2 separate regions of the Homo sapiens genome follow, and region 1 is linked to region 2. Evidence: fine-mapped expression QTL. A gene starts in region 2. The other region holds a variant in brackets. All regions are shown on one strand. Distances are between the middles of the regions.

What was found.
Region 1: its variant is fine-mapped to the expression of CLEC12B in whole blood (INTERVAL, PIP 0.97). The same link has a PIP of 0.9 or more in monocytes.

What each region holds. Positions count from the first base shown.
Region 1 is chr12:9,952,467-9,962,827 of GRCh38, reverse strand. LOC124902874 (a long non-coding RNA gene) reads right to left here. Exons shown (of 2, transcript XR_007063207.1): 1 at 9,791-10,361; 2 at 5,831-7,074. CLEC12A-AS1 (CLEC12A antisense RNA 1) reads left to right here and starts at 9,491. Exons shown (of 3, transcript NR_135047.1): 1 at 9,491-10,278. It also overlaps a transcript of CLEC12A not described here. The variant T/C (reference allele first, on the strand shown) is at 4,228.
Region 2 is chr12:10,004,498-10,014,858 of GRCh38, reverse strand. It overlaps CLEC12B (C-type lectin domain family 12 member B), which reads right to left and starts at 4,232. Exons shown (of 6, transcript NM_001129998.3): 1 at 4,009-4,232; 2 at 1,976-2,074; 3 at 118-336. The coding sequence starts at 4,099. It also overlaps a transcript of CLEC12A not described here.

The DNA of each region.
Region 1 (10,361 bases), 52 kb after region 2:
CCAAGCTAAACCATCCTATCCCCTGTGACCTGCACATACACATCCAGATGGCCGGTTCCTGCCTTAACAGATGACATTCCACTACAAAAGAAGTGAAAATGGTCTGTTCCTGCCTTAACTGATGACATTATAAAATTCCTTCTCCTGGCTCATCCTGGCTCAAAAGCTCCCCCACTGAGCACCTTGTGGCCCCCACTCCTGTCCGCCAGAGAACAAGCCCCCTTTGACTGTAATTTCCCACTACCTACCCAAATCTTATAAAACAGCTCCACCCCTATCTCCCTTCGCTGACTCTCTTTTCGGACTCAGCCCACCTGCACCCAGGTGAAATAAACAGCCTTGTTGCTCACACAAAGCCTGTTTGGTGGTCTCTTCACACGGATGTGAGTGAAAGTTATAACGGAAAAAAGGGAAAGAAATGAAGACAGGTGAAGAAAAGTGCACAGGGATAAAAATTTGGAGACACACACCTTCAGAGTCACATAATTTAAAAGTTGAGAGACCACAGTGACAGTGATATACTCAGGTACCAAAAAGAAACACACACTTGGGATCCAAAAAAAAAAAAAAAAAAGAAAAAACCGGTTATACATTAAAAGGAAAATTTAAGAAGATAAAATAACAGGACAATTTACAAGATAGAGATAAGACCAAAGGAAACCATGAGGGATAGTGAAATACCCCAGGGCTAGCTACTGCCGGAAGCCATTACTACATTAGGCCTGAGAGAACATTGCTGGTAGCAATTAACTGAAGCAGCAGAAACTATAGCTGATGAAGGCTGCCTCCCTGGAGGTACACTCAGCGAGAACAACTCCATATCCATTTCCTAGTGCTGTAGGGAAGGATTCTCCCACCTTTAAATCTTTTGCCTATTCTTCCTATTAGCACAAACATACCTAGAGCTTCAGGACAATAGTGTCCAGGGATATTATACATGAGAGTCAGTCACCATCCTAGGGCACTGCAAAGGGATTAGAATGGTGAAGAGTAGATTTATTGAAATCATTTTCTGAACCATATGTAGGCCAGTTTTTATCATTTGGCTTGTCAATTGGTGTTTTGATATTTAATTCTTTTTTTTTAGGTTGTCTCATAATTTTTTATTAAATAACAGGCCTTATGTATTAAAAACAGAAATTTTAAATGATCTTCCTACCAAAAAGTTTTGTTTCTTTTTTTCTGGCAGTCACACAGAATATAAGCGGTAAACCTTGATTAATTGGAGCCCCTCAAATTTTGCCTTCTCAGTTGTTTTATACATTTTATCTAAATTTTATAATTATCTTTTTGTAGGTTTCTTTCATCTGATACAAGTTGCAATGCTATGACTAGGATTGGCTTTATTCTGGCTTTGTTCTCCAACAAACTAAAATTGGGAGGTTATATAGTGAGGAAGGAATGTAGCTATGTGCAGGCAGAAATGTAGCTGTGTGGGGAGTGTAAACCAAAAATGAAATTCTAAGGCCCCTCAACCATCTGAATGGACTCCCTCTTCAACCACAGCTCTTTGAAAATTTAACCTGAGAGATGGGTTCAGGCCATGACAGGAAGTGCGTGTCGAACACGCTTCATTATATCTCTCAGGCATTAATACTTAAGTCTCTCTCAAGTCTGCTGTCTGGAGGCTTCATTTGCATGATAAAACCTTGGTCTCTACAACCTCTTACCACAACCCAGACATTTCTTTTCTATTGATTCCAGACCTTTAGATAAACTCAACCAATTGCCAATCAGTAAATGTTTATAGTTGATTGAAGCCTCGTGTCTCCCTAAAATGTACAAAACCAATGTGTACCTGAACCACCTTGGGTGCATGTTCGCAGGGCCTCCTGAGGGCTGTGTCACGGGCATGGTCACTCATATTTGGCTCAGAATAAATCTCTTCAAATATTTTACAGAGTTTGATGCTACGTGGACAGGGGAAAAATAGAAATTAGGCAGAGGTAGGGAAAAAATCATGCTGGGTGAAGGATCTGCAGTCTCATTGCCTGGGTGTGGTGCTCTGATGAGTTTCAGTTCCTTGCCTGAAAGTCGGTTTTCTAAGCAAGAAACTCAGGAAAACAAACAAGTTTCAAGTTTTAAGACCAGACAGGGTCCATTTCTATGTTCCAAAGCAAAACAAACAAAAACAACTGTAAATATTAGTTCTATAAGATAACGGGGCCGGTTTCAGTCTCTCTTTTCTATTTATCACTTCCTCAATCATGGAGAATCTGGTCATTGATCCTTCTGGCTGCTTCATGCTGAGGACGTGTGAGGTGGAATAATGATAAGGAATGGAAATGTGGCACTATAATCAGAAGTAGTCATTGGAGCACTATGATCTGGGTACTTTTATTTCAGTTTTAGAACAACGTTTTAGGCCACATTGAACAAGGATGATAAATAATATAGATAAACCAATTTTAAAATACCAGAGAATTTGGAGTGGATCCCTTGGGGAATCCAAGAGAACAATCCTAAGCCTACCAAAAAGTATTCCTGATTCATTATATCTTATATGTGAAAAGCTGTGGGTTTAAAGAGAATAATAACTGAAAAATGCATATTCCTTTTACAGTTTCTTATCTAGGATCTTTGGCTGGGCTTTCAATATTAACTTAAGGCCATGTATAGGTTCACAAGAGCATGACTGTTTCCCCTGGAGGGATCCCACAGTGACTAGTTTTACTGAGTATGTTGAATTCATGGTTTAACACTGGCTAACTTGATAGACGAGTGGGTGGTCAGCAGCACCTTAAAAAGACTGACCTATTGTGGTTGCAGCTAGTCTTCAGCCTGATGGGATTTCCAGGTCTTCAGTATGATTCGATTCCCTGGTTTCAAACAGGGAAGAGGCAAGTCCATACAGAAATGAAGTCTGTTGGAGAGACTAGTTAATATATTCCCTAATTGTTTCATGTATGACATAGCTTCTGTTTCAGGGGAGGAAAAAATCCTCAAGCATCAGAGAGTCCAGGAAAACAGTCTCCAAGTAAACATTTTGAAAGGGGCTAAGAGCTAATCCATTTCTGGGAGCTACCAGTACCCTCAGCAGGGCAAGGGGCAAGACCTTTTCCCAGGTAAGATTTATCTCTTGGAAACTGAGGTCTCCTTGGAATATGCCAGAGGGAGCATTGATTGCCAAACTTTATTTTGTTCCATATCATTTCCAAGGTGGTATGACTACCTGCCCCGAGTCCATCCTGTTCGTCAGTGGGACCCCTGTAACCAAGGGACTTAGAGTCAAAAAAGACTTATAGTCAATTAAACATTCTAGGCCACACAAGAATAGAGGTGCCAGGGACTCATTACCATTAAAACTCAAAGCAACGAAAGAGCCAAAAACCAAAAAGTAAGGTTAATATTTCTTTCTTCTTTTTTTTTTTTTTTGAGACAGAGTTTCGCTCTTCTCTCCCAGGCTGGAGTGCAGTGGCACAATCTCTACTCACTGCAACCTCCGCCTCACTGGTTCAAGAGATTCTCCTGCCTCAGCCTCCAGAGTAGCTGGGGTTACAGGTGCCCGCCACCACGCCCAGCTAATTTTTTGTATTTTTAGTAGACATGGGGTTTCATCATGTTGGCCAGGCTGGTCTCAAACTCCTGACCTCATGTGATCCACCCGCCTCAGCCTCCCAAAGTGCAGGGATCACAGGAGTGAGCCACCACGCCCAGCCAAGTTAATATTTCTATCATTGTTCCTGGACCAAACTGAGGGTCAGACTGCTATTTCTTCCAGCCCAGTAACAAGATGCAGATGAACTGGGGAGGAAGAGTTTTTATTTCTTTAACAAGTTATAGGGAGAAGGCCTGGAAAATATTGCCAGACCAACTCAAAATTACAAAGTCTTCCAGAGCTTATTACCTTCTAAGTTATATGTCTGTGTGTAAGTGCATTCATCTAAAAACATGAGTGATTAACTTCTTGTAATCTATAACTGAGATCTGAGTTCTGAAGACCTTCCTCTGGAGGCTTAGTAAATTTACTTAATCTATATGGGTCCAGGTGCTGGGGTGATTACCCTATCTTGTCTCCTGCTAAATCATGGAGGTTTGGGAACTTCCTTGAGATCTCCAATAAACTTGTCTGTGGAAGCCTGGGAAGTTTCTTCAGACTGCCGGTAAAACTTGTTTAATCCTAATCTGGTCCTGTTAAGAATTCCTTCATTATCTTGTCATGGGTCCAAGCCCCAGGAAAGTCCTAGGCAAAACTCGTGGTGGGCTTTTGTTACAATCCAGAGTTTG[T/C]ATAAGGCCACTGGCTTTTTTACCTTTTAACATTTAACTTAACCACTCAGTCAGTACTGAAACAGTTGTTATGGAGGCCTGCATTAGTGACCTGGCCTGCCACATCATTATAAAGCCAGTCCCCCGTGGCTTACATTTGAAGCATATCTGTTGCTTCATCTGGAGTGCTCCACTTGGCATTTATAGGTGGAGTGGGACAATTCTCCTTCTCAGAGTAAATAGTTCTCACAGTGTTTTATCCAGTCCACCAAGTAGGCTGTTCTTTTGGGAATAACCTCCTGTGTGCCCGGATTATATGTACCCATCTGCAACTGTTCAATTGTGAGCCGTGGGTTCTGTATCAACCGGATCTTCCACTCTGCAGCATTTAAAACCAAAGACATTGTGCCTAAAGTAATTACTCTCACAATTTATTTTAGTAAAGGTTCAGGAAGCTAATGATACTGATTTGCAAAATAGAACAATTCCTTCACATTATACCCTCTAGTTTCAGAAGTCACTTTAATTCACTCCTTCCCCACATTGACTACCTTCCAGGAAACCACAGATCTCAGAGGTACTTTCTGGTTTCCTGGCATAATTTTCTTCTTCATGAGCAGCCTTGAGGCTAGTGATCTGAGTTCAGACAGACCCACATCTAGGCTTGGTTTGGCCTCAAAGCCTGACCCAATATTCTCCTACTTTAATTTTAGCTATTACAGATGTGAAAGGAAAATAAATCTTGGGGTCCCCAAATCACTAAGCCAAAGAGAGAAGTCAAGCTGGGAATTGTGTCAGGCAAACCTGGCTCCCATTTTATTCGATTGAATTTCACCCTGGCAATGTAAATTGATAGCTTATCTTCACAGGTATGGGACAAAGGATAGAACTTGAAGTCAACCCTCTGCTCATCTGAAACAAATGCATATCTGATTGCTTCCTCTGCCCTTTCGTTTGTATAAAAATGCAGATTCACTGATCTAGACTGAGGCATAAGTGACTATTTCTTTACCCCACTCTCACATGTAATTGTGTATTTAGTGAAAGTCTGATCAAAATCTCAAAAGAATACAACCATTTGTCTCTTATCTACCCACACCTTTTTTTTGTTTTTTTGTTTTTTTTTTTTTTGAGATGAAGTCTCACTCTGTCATCACCCAGGCTGGAATGCAGTGGCACGATTTTGGCTCACTGCAACCTCTGTCTCCCGAGTTCAAGTGATTCTCCTGCCTCAGCCTCCTGAGTAGCTGGGATTACAGCCGTGCACCACCACACCCAGCTAATTTTTGTATTTTTAGTAGAGATGGGGTTTGTCCATGTTGGTCAGGCTAGTCTCAAACTCCTGACCTCAGGTGATCTGCCCACCTTGGCCTCCCAAATTACTGGGATTACAGGCATGAGCCACCGCCCTACCCACACCTTTTTAAAATTTCTTCCTCTTTCCCCAATATCTGCCCTTTCCCCTTTAAATATTGAAGCCCTCAAAAGCATCTTTGGAGAAAGGCACAGACTTGTGTTTCAGGCACATATCCCTACCCTTGGCAAAATAAACTTTGAAATTAATTGAGACCTACCTCAGATACATTTTGGTTTATATCGATAACAAAAACCAAGGGATTGAAAATTTTGCTTTTTTAAAAATTAGTTTTTATTTCCTTATGCATCCAGTGAACCAACTTCTGAGGTGATGAATCCATATCTAAATTCCACTGGTAACTTATACTTTTAATAACTGAATGCAGCACAGCACAGATGTATCTCCATACCATGGATGACCAGGTTGCCATAGGTCAAAGATTAATCTAATAACAGGTGTACTGCAGTTTTCTTCCAAAACATAATGTTTCTCTCTCCAGCTCCCCATTTCCATGAAAGGCAAATCACAGTAGGACCAATTTATTTGCAAAATCTGTTTTAATCTTATTATAGTTTGCCTGATTATTTGCATAAACTGAAGCAAGAATTATTGTTCATATAGGCTTTTTTAAATTGGCTTTGCTGGAACTTTTCATAAGGAATCTCAGATTTGATTTTTAAAGGCCTCTCGAGCACAACCAATAATTGATCTGTGCTTGCAGATACCTGTATGAATTGGGTGAATTCCTCTTTTCTTGAGGTCCCAAAACAACTTGAGTTTTCTGGGCCTGAGAACATTCATGTTTCTCATCTATAAAATGTTAATATCTGATAGACAGCCCAGGATTTCTTGCTTCCTAGGTTTCCATTAAAATTTAGGATTACTAAGAATAAGAATTCCAGCAAATTGTATGATTCCATGTACAATGTGCCAAAGAAGATGTGTTCTTATTGATTAAAGAAATAATTTTGTTTAACTCAGAAGTTATCTAAAGGTTAATTCAAATTATAGACTTAGGTTGTTTATGAAACAGGGTAGAAAGGATCCAGTAACTAGGGGAGAGAGATATAGATTAGTCCCCTGGGTTAGAACAAGGTTTTCTTAAAATATTGATTGGATGAGAGGTTTTGATTTTGACTCTATAATCTGTTACTTTTTGAATACTTCTCAGATCTATATCTCCAAAGTGCAGCTTTCTTGTGTTTTGTTGCTGTCAGCTTGTCTCCCCTTGAAGGAACCTGAAATGAAACTATCTCCTTCAACTTTGTCAGTTCTTGTATCTTTTTTTTCCCTCTTGCCTTAACTGCTGTCATGGTCTGATGCTGAAATATTTATTTTAAAATTCTAGAGAAGCAACGTTTTCCTCCAGTATAGCTTGATTCTGTCCTCTTGGCTTTTCTTGATATGTCTACATCATTTATCAGGTTTGATTTTCAGGTTTTCGAGATGGGACTCTGATAGGAGAAGCAATCACACTGCAGGAGGTTTTTCTTTGCCTTTTGGTAACTGACCTGAGAAACAAATTTTACATTTTATCAAAATAATTTCTATGTCATTGTTATTGGGTTTTTGATTGCTTAGGAAAACTGAGATTTAAAGGAATTAAGGTTTTTACATCATTTAACTTTCTGTATTGAAACCCTTTCATAATTGGAAATGACCCACACATCTCATGAGCATCCAAAATAACTTCAAGATATTAAATTACACAAAAAGTTCACTTAGAGCATTTATGCCATTTATATTTCATTCACTTTTTTAGCAATTATCTATATTACTTATGAGAAAAGAGATATCAAAGCTATTCATTATTTCCTTGTTAACCATTTTTATAACTTGTATATATTAGATGTTCACCTAAGTAAGAAACATAAAGTTGGCTGGGCATGATTGCTTACACCTGTAATCCCAGCACTTTGGGAGGCTGAGGCAGGAGGATCATGAGGTCAGGAGATCAAGACCATCCTGGCTAACATGGTGAAACCTCTTCTCTACTAAAAAATACAAAAAATTAGCCGGGCGTGGTGGCGGGCGCCTGTGGTCCCAGCTACTCAGGAGGCTGAGGCAGGAGAATGGCGTGAACCCGGGAGGCAGAGCTTGCAGTGAGCCGAGATCGGGCCACTGCACTCCAGCCTGGGCGACAGAGTGAGACTCCGTTTTTAAAAAAAAGAAACATAAAGTAAAATACATGGATACTTGCACCAATAATGCAAAAGTTTCAGCTATTTTTATTAACCTAACGACATTAAATTAGTCTTATTTATCAAAAAATCACACAAAGATAATTTTGTTCTTGGCTGGGTTTATAGTCTTATAATCTCTTTGTCAAACCCTGACACCTTTAAATATCTAGCAGAGACAAATGTAAAACCCAAACAAAAAAAGTATGCTGACAATTCCAAAGGCATTTCTATTTTTATTTTACAAATGATCTAAAAGCTCTCTTGTTTATTAAAGATTTACTTAAGTCATGTAAACTTGAAAAATGCTTAGACTCATTTACTTAATTTATGAACGCTTTTTAATTTATAAGCCAATTTGCTACCCTCTAAAAACAACACGTAACATCTAGACACATATACCTACATACACACAAAGATCCAATAGCTTTTACCTTTAAATTCCAGCCATGAGATAGCAATGCAAACTCACTGGTTTATGAACATGTTCACATGGTTGAACTTTATTTGTTCTGATAGGTAATCCAATAAAGGTTGTGAAACAAAATTTTGAATAAAGCAGTTTCCATGATAGTTTGATTATTTTTTTTTTTGAGACAGGATCTCCGTCACCCAGGCTGGAAGTGCAGTGGTGTGATCAAGGCTCACTGCAGCCTCAACCTCCCAGGCTCAGGTAATCCTCCCACCTCAGCCTCCTGAGTAGCTGGGACTACAGGTATGCACCATTACACCCAGCTAATATTTGTATTTTTTGTAGAGACAGGGTTTCACCATGTTGCCCAGGCTGGTCTCGAACTCCTGGGCTCAAGTATCTGCCCACCTCAGTTTCTTGCGCCCAGCTGACAGTTTGATTTTTTTTTTTTTTTTTTTTTTTTTTTTATTGATAATTCTTGGGTGTTTCTCACAGAGGGGATTTGGCAGGGTCATGGGACAATAGTGGAGGGAAGGTCAGCAGATAAACAAGTGAACAAAGGTCTCTGGTTTTCCTAGGCAGAGGACCCTGCGGCCTTCCGCAGTGTTTGTGTCCCTGATTACTTGAGATTAGGGATTGGTGATGACTCTTAACGAGCATGCTGCCTTCAAGCATCTGTTTAACAAAGCACATCTTGCACCGCCCTTAATCCATTTAACCCTGAGTGGACACAGCACATGTTTCAGAGAGCACAGGGTTGGGGGTAAGGTCACAGATCAACAGGATCCCAAGGCAGAAGAATCTTTCTTAGTGCAGAACAAAATGAAAAGTCTCCCATGTCTACTTCTTTCTACACAGACACGGCAACCATCCCATTTCTCAATCTTTTCCCCACCTTTCCCGCCTTTCTATTCCACAAAGCCGCCATTGTCATCCTGGCCCGTTCTCAATGAGCTGCTGGGCACACCTCCCAGACGGGGTGGTGGCCGGGCAGAGGGGCTCCTCACTTCCCAGTAGGGGCGGCCGGGCAGAGGCGCCCCTCACCTCCCGGACGGGGCGGCTGGCCGGGCAGGGGGCTGACCCCCCCACCTCCCTCCCGGACGGGGCGGCTGGCCAGGCAGAGGGGCTCCTCACTTCCCAGTAGGGGGCGGCCGGGCAGAGGCGCCCCTCACCTCCCGGACGGGGCGGCTGGCTGGGCGGGGGGGCTGACCCCCCCCACCTCCCTCCCGGACGGGGCGGCTGGCCAGGCGGGGGGCTGACCCCCCCACCTCCCTCCCGGACGGGGCGGCTGGCCAGGCGGGGGGCTGACCCCCCCACCTCCCTCCCGGACGGGGCAGCTGGCTGGGCGGGGGGGCTGACCCCCCATCTCCGTCCCAGACGGGGTGGCTGGCCGGGCTGAGGGGCTCCTCACTTCCCAGTAGGGGGGGGCGGGCAGAGGCGCCCCTCACCTCCTGGACGGGGCGGCTGGCCGGGCAGGGGGCTGACCCCCCCACCTCCCTCCCGGACGGCATGGCTGGCCAGGCGGGGGGCTGACCCCCCACCTCCCTCCCGGATGGGGCGGCTGGCCGGGCGGAGGGCTAACCCCCCCCACCTCCCTCCCGGACGGGGTGGCTGCTGGGCGGAGACGCTCCTCACTTCCCAGATGGGGTGGCTGCCGGGCGGAGAGGCTCCTCACTTCTCAGACGGGGCGGCTGCCGGGCGGAGGGGCTCCTCACTTCTCAGACGGGGTGGTTGCCAGGCAGAGGGTCTCCTCACTTCTCAGACGGGGCGGCCGGGCAGAGACGCTCCTCACCTCCCAGACGGGGTCTCGGCCGGGCAGAGGCGCTCCTCACATCCCAGATGGGGCGGCGGGGCAGAGGCGCTCCCCACATCTCAGACGATGGGCGGCCGGGCAGAGACGCTCCTCACTTCCTAGATGTGATGGCGGCTGGGAAGAGGCGCTCCTCACTTCCTAGATGGGATGGCGGCCGGGCGGAGACGCTCCTCACTTTCCAGACTGGGCAGCCAGGCAGAGGGGCTCCTCACATCCCAGACGATGGGTGGCCAGGCGGAGACACTCCTCACTTCCCAGACGGGGTGGCGGCCGGGCAGAGGCTGCAATCTCGGCACTTTGGGAGGCCAAGGCAGGTTGCTGGGAGGTGTAGGTTGTAGTGAGCCGAGATCACGCCACTGCACTCCAGCCTGGGCACCATTGAGCACTGAGTGA
Region 2 (10,361 bases):
TCATTAAGGTTCACTGGATGACATAACTCTCTCAATACTCTTAGGTGGTACATGTGATCAACTTAGACCAGGATAACATATGCCATCTGACTGGTCAGCAGGACTAAGTCTGATTACCTGAAGTATGAATGATTAGCTCTTGGCACAGTTTGATGGCCATTTGTTCCTGCCTCTTCAGTACACTGGAGATCTGTGACTTGAGAAATTCCTCCTCCATGGACAAGTTGTTGGAGTTGCCCAGTTGCTGGGATAAGTTATCCTGCTGCTGTTGGATGGTTTTCTGAAGTTGACTCAATTTCTCTGAATCTGAGTTAATGTCATTAGATATCTGCAAAACTCCAAGACATGACAGGAGACAAGTTCATATATTCTTCTATTCTTATAACTGTAGATAATTCTCGTGACAGAAACATTTCTTAATTGTTCAAGATTTATTAGTAGCTCTTAGTATTTGAGGTATCATGAAAGAAACAAACCAGATGCCTTTCTATTCCAAATTATTTATAGTTCTTTATAATTTTATTTACATTTTTATTATTGCACTATATTAAAATAATGATTTAATAATGATATATTTCTGACATCACATCTAAGGAAGGGCCAGTCATTCTGCCACTCATTTTCATGAAATTGTTTTATTTTTGTTTTATTTTATTTGGAGATAGATGATGTAATTGTTGTTTTAATGAAAACAGCATTCTTTGGGACAATGGATATCTCAAACTCTGCAGATGACCTGAGATGCTTGTTTACCAAAAGAAAAGAAAAAGCAGATCTTAATGGCATATCAGACCATTTCTCGTCATGGGTCCATGAAATATGCCCTTTTCATAAGCATTTAAGGTGCTTCATCAGCACAACAAATTTAAGAACCACTGCACCAAAAGCACTAAATTTTAGAAAAGAAATGTCACCCTTCTATATCGAACCAATGGACGTACGTTATTGCATTTTCACTTAATTTTTAAATATACATTATTGTAGAAGATCGGCTGCTAATCCTCATACTGATTGGCTCCAGAATATCTGTTACTGCTGCTTGAACATCATATTCCTTTTCAAAAGAGCAAGGTACATCATTAGTCTCTTTTTATGTTGGCAAAGATATGTCCAAATCCTAATTAACCATTAAATCCTAAAAAATTATCCATTAAATCATTAAAAAGAAATGAATGTAGCAGAGGAGATGTTAGTATCATTCAGCAAATTAACTTTCTTGACTGTGAGTTCCCTGTAAGCGAATACCATGCCAATTCACTACTCTGTATACCATATACTTAACAACCCTATAAAGTTTGTATTCTCAGGATGTTTTTCTCATTACTCAAGAACTCCCTACCATGTTCATCCCCAACTTCCCGAGGATGGGTCAGAATCAATAGAATGTTCCTTTGTGGCTGTGGTGCTTGAGAGTGGAGCTTCCATTGTCATGTGGAGATGGTTCAACTCTCTTACTTGGTAAGGTGTATCAGGCCACTCTTCCTCTTTGTTTATATGTCTTTCTCATTCATAGAAATCAGGCTGCTGCTGCTACTTGGAAGATTTCTCTCCACTAGAGAAGTTTCATGTAAGCAGACTGAACCTAGTCTAGTGTTAAGTCTTTCAGGTAAATAAAAATAGCAAGCACTTCCTTCAATACATATTTCTTGACTTTATTTCTCAGCATTGGAATGATAAGTGAATGTGTGTCTAGGCAGAAAAGAGGCTCTTTATTCTAATGAATAACTGGAAACAAAGAGTCTTTGTCTAAGTCCAGTTTAGCTTATCAAGATAAAACAATGAATTTAGAACCAAATCCTGATAATGTCTTTTGCCGGTTTTTTGGGAAGATATGACGAATAGGAGAGATATGAGACAGCAGAAAAGTATCAGACGATTCAGGATGCTAGGACCCATCTACAATCCAAGCTGAAAGTACATGGTTTACAATATGTTTTCTAGTTGCCTTTGTTGGGTTTGATGCTGATATACTTACACATCATCCCCAATGTCACCAGCCCAATCAGCAACATCAGGCAAAGAGTTACCAGACCCAGAGCAGCATGACGCCAAATGGGAGATGGAGCTGGATGCCCTGGAGAAAGCCAAAAGAGCAATCAGCACACAGAACTGCTTTGTGCTTGTTTCACTTTGGTTTGTTTATTTCTCCCACTTAGGGAGCTTCCCGATACTAACGTTTCTTTCTTGCTTCTTTAATGCCCTCATTTAGAAAATACCTAATATGAAGTGCAATGAGGGTGCCATCCTTGTTTCCCCTCCATTTCTCCACCGCTCTCCTTCACTTTAAGAGGAAGCTTCGTTGGGGGAGGGGGGAGGCATACCTTTAGGAGATATACCTAATGCTAAATGACGAGTTAATGGGTGCAGCACACCAGCATGGCACATGTATACATATGTAACTAACCTGCACATTGTGCACATGTACCCTAAAACTTAAAGTATAATAATAATAAAATAAAAAGGAAGCTTCTCCTAATTTCAAGGTTTTTGTTTTACATCATTGCCCACTTTTCTTCCTCAAGTTTATTGAATTCATAAATGAGAGATCTAAAAACTGCTTTTCTGGATGATGCTGACAGTAGGAGACACCTCAAGCTTTTGAGCTCAAAAGTCTCTATAAGGCACATGTTCTATCTGCCTTGTAAAAGTGGATTCGACTTTTTAAAGTATCTTTTACCTGTTAACAATAACTTATCTATTATTCATGCTATTTATCACCTAATAAATAATGAATGAATACTGAATGAAAGAAGGAAAGAATGTGCAGTCTAACCTACAAACAGCAGAATAGACCAGAAAGCCGTTAGCATCCTAGTCATTGTTGTTGTTTAAAATATCAATGGTTGTCATGTTTTCCTTAGCTTCATATCCCTTGATTTAGGTCCAAATAACATCTAGCGCAATGTTTTAGATACAGCATGACAGACTCTAGGTACACTGTGATATGCACCATATCCACACCTCCTTTTTCCTCACAGGTTAGAATTAGAATTAAAAAGTAAAACAAAACAAGGCAAAAATGTGTAACCACATTTATTAGACATATGCAAAGTCTATTCCCATCGGCTTTTTGTAAATATCCTTCCCTCAAATGTCATGCACCACACAAAATGTAAAGATAAATCTAGAGGGCAGGAGAAAGTAGTTCAGATGACTGACATGATTCAGGAGAACCTGGATAGTTAACATATCTGAAAATAAGAGATGTGGTCTTATATATTAAATCAGAGTCTTGACCATGGAGACTGCTATTTTTCCAATTAGGCATAAGAGAATGAGCTGAAGACCAGCACTGAGACTGGGCTTCCCCACATAGCAGTTGTGTGAGCTTGCTTAAATTATCTAATTTCTCTCACCCTCAGTTTTTTCATCTATGTAATGGAGAAAATACTAATATTCGAATATTATTGTGGATTTTCATTACAATTATATCTGTATATAATGTACATAAAATACTACCCAGATACTATTATTACTGGTTCAACATTACAAATTATGCTCGGATTTCAACTACCCTAAAATTTGAAAAAATACTGACAAAAGAAAAATTAGCTCTGATCTATTTCTAATCCACTCACTCATCTTCCAGTTTTCTCTTAAGTAACTTACATCATCTAAAAGAAAAACGTCCTCTACCTTCTCTATTTTAGAAGCCTCCAATCTGGTTTCTGAAAGAATATCCTCCTGGCATCTCTAACAAGGTATAAATATCAAGGATTATATTCATAAGAAGAAATCTCTAATTCCCCAAGCTCAATTTCTGGCATGTGCAGTCAGAATTTCTCTGACTGTGTGATATCACACAACTTTAAAGAGGTTCTGAAAGCCACATATTTTCACTTCAACCTTGGGAACACTCACTTTTCTAATACATTCCACAACTATTTGTCCCCATTTTGGAGATTTCACAGCACATGTCTTTAACGCCAGTATTAAAGCTGGCACCTCAAAGCATTTAACACCTGTCCACTCCCCCAAGGACACAGCTGGTCTTCTCTGAACTCCTACCTCTTTTTCTTAGGTTATTTCCATCTCGGTTATTCCTTGCTCCAGCAGAATCCTGAAATGTGAGTGTCGCGTAGGTCACTTCTTCAGACATTGTAGAAGAAAACGCTACTTTAAATTATCTAATTAATGTTTCAATATCTTGAGGCCTGGGAACAGCATGTGTTTTTCAAGGCTGGGAGCTTTGATGTAGTCACTCAGCTGACCCAGACACACTCTACTGCCCCTCTGTAAGAGAAGAATGACAATTTGTTTCTCTACAGAGAAAGTGAGAAAAGCCAAATATTCTCCTTAGAGATATTCTCATTAGAATGTTACAGATCTCAAACTGTCTGCTCTGTCAGAACTGTTTCTTGCTGTGCAGCAAAGAAGGGGTGCTTGAGGCAGAGCAGGAGGAACATGAGGGAATTCCCATGATCCTCGGGGTAGAGGATGCTCTGAATGTTTCAGAAAAGAGTCAGGTTGTCTTCTTTACATCTATCTAAGGCTAGCTAATCTGCCTGGAGACATTGGTTCTAGTTTATTCTCAGCCACATTAGATATTAAGCAGAGAGACACACATTAAGACAGAAAGAGCTGTGCCACACACCTGGCTGCTATTATAGAAAATTCAAGCGTGTGTGTGTGTGTGTGTGTGTGTGTGTGTGTGTGTGAGAGAGAGACAGAGAGAGACAGAGAGAGAGAGACAGAGAGAGAGAGACATGGTGTTGGTAATGGAGCATGGAGAAGAAACTGATAGCTACTTAGCTACTTAACGTGAGTATGAATGGGAGTGCCCTCTTCTGGCATGGTTGGGAAAGTTCCTAACAGAACAACAACCATGGGATAATCCTGCAGACAGCAAGGAATACACAGGACAAGATTTTAAAAAGATAACTACCGGAAGTTAATACATCTGTGGTAATTTGTTACAGCAGCAATATGTAGTTAATACAGAACCCAGGAAAATATGGGGGGGGAGCGCTATATATGAGGGACGAAATTAAGGAATCTCCTCTAAAGCTTTCCTTTGGGGAGAGGCAGAATATTAGATAACTGTACTTAGGGGAAGGATTGGGTATGAGTTTTGTGGTTTCAGATGAGTGGGGAGTGATCTAAAACTTCCAAGGTTCATATCTGTGTGGAGATTATCTTAGTCAAAGGTGTCCAGCGTGAGGTGCACTCACCCCACAGCTGTGAAGCAGATGCAGAAAGGCAATGTAAAAACTTTCTCTTTAGGAACGCTGTGCATGATCTCTAAACACCTAAATATACATATGTTACTTGTTCATGTTTTTTGTTTTTTTTTTTTTCAAATTGATGAAATAATCAAAAAAATGTTTGGAGGCTCTAAGTCATATATCAATAAAACTCCACTATCAAAAATATTGAAACAAATAATAAATCTATGCTTATGTTTACTATTCTAGTTGAATTCAGAAAAGGCAGAGACCATTGACATGAGGACCAGTTTAAATAGATGATTACAAAAATAAGAAATTAAGAATGGTTTTCTATCTCTGTTCTGGTCCGTGTCCGGAGTTGGTTCCTGCCGGTGGGTTCCTGGTCTCGCTGACTTCAAAAATGAAGCCGCGGACCTTTGCGGTGAGGGTTACACCTCTTAAAGATGGCACGGACCCAAAGACTGAGTGGTAGCAAGGTTTATTGTGAAGAGCAGGATGACAAACCTTCCACAGCATGGAAGGGGTCCCAAGCGGGTTGCTGCTGCTGGCTGGGGTGGCTAGCTTTTATTTCCTTACTGTCCCCTCCATGTTCCGTTTCTGTCGTATCAGACTGACCTTTTTTCAATCCTCACCGCAATTGGCTACTTTTAGAATCCTGCTGATTGGTGCGTTTTACAGAGCGCTGATCGGTGCGTTTTACGTGGCACTGATTGGTGCGTTTTACAATCCTCTTGTAAGACAGGAAAGTTCCCTGAGTCCCCACTCGATTCAGGAAGTCTGGCTGGCCTCACGTCTCATGACTTTCACCAGATTTTGCAAAAACTGGGTTTTCATCCTCATTTCCTTAATTCTTTCACATACCTTAAAGCTTCCTAACAAAGTATTAACTTCTCACTATCCATGAAATGATGCTTAGCTTGAACAATGATGAAGAATGTCACCTGATTCCTAATTATTTCTAAGAGAAGATTGATAACACTTCTCACATACTTTCTATTATTATGATCCAAAAAGCTATATCATCTATCATTATTAGTGTATGATCATATTAATTTAGACATTTCTTTATATACTTTTCTCCCTTAAAAACTTACAGCATTTCTGTAGCTTATTTTATCAGTTACACTATTTAAAAACTCACTTTGTTGCAGTCATTTACCAAATTCTCCTTATTTCTTCATTATTTTTTCAACTATCTTAAATCTTATTGATCTCTACTCCTATCATGATTATCATGTGATTTCGACATTCAGGTAGGTGATAATTCCAATACTATGGGCTCTCAGTTCTTGAATTTGCCTCCAATAACCTTACCCACACTCAGAAATCAGTTGCTCACACACAAAAATCAGTCACCCACTAGATGATCCTAGTTTAGAGCTAGGCTATTCACCGTAGTAATCACTAGGCATATAATTGCTATTTAAACTTAAATTAATTAAAATTAAATTAAATTTAAAATTTATTTCCTAGGTCACACTAGTCATACTTCAGGTACTTAACAGCCACAGGTGGCATTGGCTATGCAATTGGACAGTGCAGGTAAATAACATTTCCATTATTAGCAACGTGGCTATTGAACAGCACTGCACTAGAGTGCAGACAATTTCATTTCCAATATGAGAAATTCTTCCATGATCTGTTTCAGATATTTCACTCTCTGACCTCCACCTCCTATGTTTCCAGCCCACTCTCTCTGGGTATTCTACACTCTACAGCATTTCAGTGCCCACTGAGATAGCAACTTCACTGACCATGCCAACTTCTCATTGTTGTCAATCCCTCATGTCTCATTTCCTATTATACCCAGCATGCACCACTTACCAGGGCCAATTATAAAAATCGTTTTCTTACCCACAGCTACAACTTCCTTGCTTACCTCTTCATTCATCATAAGCATCTAGAAAATGCAGCTTGTTTAAATCCAACCCTACCTACTCTGTGCATACATTCAAGTAGCTGAATGTGATCATATTAACTGGTTTTATCTTACGTTTTTGAAATGTAACTTCTCAGCACTCTTACTAATCAATCTGTTCTGCAAATCTCCTAAAAGATTATTCCCAATCTCTTTTTCTTTCTCAGACTCTCAAATTTCTTTCTGTCTTCTCTTTCTACAAACTAAACGGATAACCTGGCTTTTCCATTAACATTATCTTAAGAAAAAAAAGAAATTCAGAAAGAAGTTTTCTCTGTTTCACTAGTCAAATATACCAAAACAGCTACATCAGTATATGAGGTAGTATTCTTTTCAACAGTGGTTGAATTGTACTACTCATCTAAGATCAATCTCCATCTGTATATTAAAATCCATCCACCTATCTCCTTAAAGATTTCAAGCTTGTAATTTTCCTTCTTTTTCTCTTTCTATCAATTTTTCCATTTTTTTCATCTCTACTTGTTCACTTATGTTCACTTCCAAAGATGATATAATATCTCCTATATTAAAACAAGCAGAAGCCATCTTTTGTTCACCGTAACACCATACACATGATCACTCCATTTCTCTAATTTTCTTAACAACAAATGGGTTCAAAAATTTCTCTATGATCTTCCCAAACCTATTCTAATTAGGCTTTTTCCTTCACTATTTCTTTTTTTTCTTTTTTTATTTTTATTCTTTCTTTTTTTTTATTGAGACAGAGTCTAGCTCTGTTGCCCAGGCTGGAGTGCAGTGGCGCGATCTCGGCTCACTGCAAGCTCCGCCTCCCAGGTTCATGCCATTCCCCTGCCTCAGCCTCCAGAGTAACTGGGACTACAGGCGCCTGCCACCCCGCCCGGCTAATTTTTTGTATTTTTAGTAGAGACGGGGTTTCACCGTGTTAGCCAGGATGGTCTCGATCTCCTGACCTCGTGATCTGTCCCCCTCGGCCTCCCAAAGTGCTGAGATTACAGGCGTGAGCCACCACGCCTGGCCCTTCTTTCACTATTTCTAAAAAACACTCCTGCTAAAGTCAACATTACCTCAGTATAAACACATCCAATGGCTAGTTCTCAGGATTCATCTTACACATCGTATAAACAGAATTTTAAATAACTGATTATTCACTTTTCGTGACAAACTTTCTTCTCCAAAATGCTTTGTTCCCTAGGACACCATTCTCTTGGTTTTCCTTTTGCTTCACTCACAACCCAATCCTCCCTCAGATTAACTGATTCCTCTTTAAATTAATTTAAGATGTTGTTGTGTCCTAGAGTTCAATTCTTGGTCTTCTTAAAAAAAAAACAAAAAACTTATCCTGGAATGAACTAAATTGAATAGTACCCAGAGAATGGCCAGAATGGGAATTAATTTCTTATAGATTCGTGCCTTGAGATAACAGCCATACATTGATAATGTCCAAAAATTGTTATCTCCATACCAGCGCTTGATCTACAGGACCACGTATCTGAATGGATTCTTGGCATATTCACTTTGATATATTATAGGATTTTCTAGCTTAACACATCAAAAAATGGGTACCTTTTCCCAATGTGTTTCTTCATCTTAACAAATGTACACTCCATACGTACAGTTTCTCAGCTAAAAACTTGGAATCACCTTTGACAATTCTTGCTGCTCTCACATGAATTAAACTTGTCAGAAAATATTGTTCACCTTGGAAAATATGGAAACACAGTTATTAAATGTGGAAGTATTATTGATTTAGAAGATCTTAAAAGAAATATTGAGTTAACATGACAGAAGGATTCATTCTCACTCTGTTCTTTCTGTTCTCACATTTCATGCCTATTTCAGAGGACACTTTTAAAGTGGGGTTTAAATGGGAAAGTACCCAGAGAATGGCAAGAATGACAATTAATTCCGAATTATTTACAAAAAAGAAATAGGGAAAAGTGAAGATGAAAGCCAGAGGTATCAAAGACTTAAAGGAAACAAAAATAAACTAAAAGCAGAAGGAAAATAAATGGCCACAAGAAGGAGACAGAGGATGAATATAGGATGGAATTTATTTTGAAATGTATTAATATATTTACCCCATCAGGTGAATATACCTGACCAGCATAATAAAATATCCCAATTAAAATGAAGCACTATGAAGACAGACAAATTGATTCAAATCCTGGAGCAACACTTACTTGCCTTGTGGCTTTCGGCAAGTTATTGAACCTCTGTGCTTTATTTTTCTTAATAGTAAATCTGTCATAAATTTAATTCCTGCCACAAATATAACTGATAAAAGCATATAGAAAGAGCAATAAATGGCAGCTGTCATCGTAGAAGCAAGTTTGGATTATTCTGGATCATATTAAAAATGGAAGAAACCTGGGCAATTGTCCAAGCACTGACAGTGAAGCTTAAACAAACCAATCCTCATGAGCACAACGAGGGTCTGCTTGAGCCTGTCCAGAAGAACTCGATTATATCACTTTTCTTCATTCATAACACTTTCCATGATATACAATTATCTTGATCTTTGCTTTCTATGTTTCTTTACTATCTGTGCTGACCACCTTCTACTATAATATAAGCTAAATGCTTGTATAATTCATTAACCATTGGTCCCCAGAAAATAGAATTGTGCCTTGGACATCTGCAGTGATCAGTAAACATATGTTCAAATAAATGATTAATTAATAGTCCCTGCCATGAAGTTTTATAGTAATTTTAATTGGAAAGTACAATAGTAGATATACTTAACATTCTGTGAATCCTTAATTCAAATATACTAGATCATTTCACTTTCTCTTTGATTCAGACAAGAGACAGGGAAATACTGGGTAGAAGAGGGTTGTTCCTACCACACACCGGGGCCTGTCGTGGGGTCGGGGGAGTGGGGAGGGATAGCATTAGGAGATACACCTAATGTAAATGACAAGTTAATGGGTGCAGCATACCAACATGGCACATGTATACATATGTAACAAACCTGCACATTGTGCACATGTACCCTAGAACTTGAAATGTTATATATATATATTTATAAAGAAGAGAGTGGTTCCCTGGCACGTGCCCCACCCTTAAGCTGGGAGACTGGCAGCTCCAAATGGGGACAGACATTCCTGTTTTCATGCCCCAAAAAGTTGCCTTTTGGCCTGCCATGCCCCCTATTCTGTACCCATATAAACCCTGAACTCCAGGCTCCAGATCAGATGAGCAGACGAGGAGATGAGAAGACAAGCAGATGAAAGGTGGAATGACATGACAGAGAAGGAGAGAAGAGGAGGAACTTCTGAACGCCAAGAGGAGTT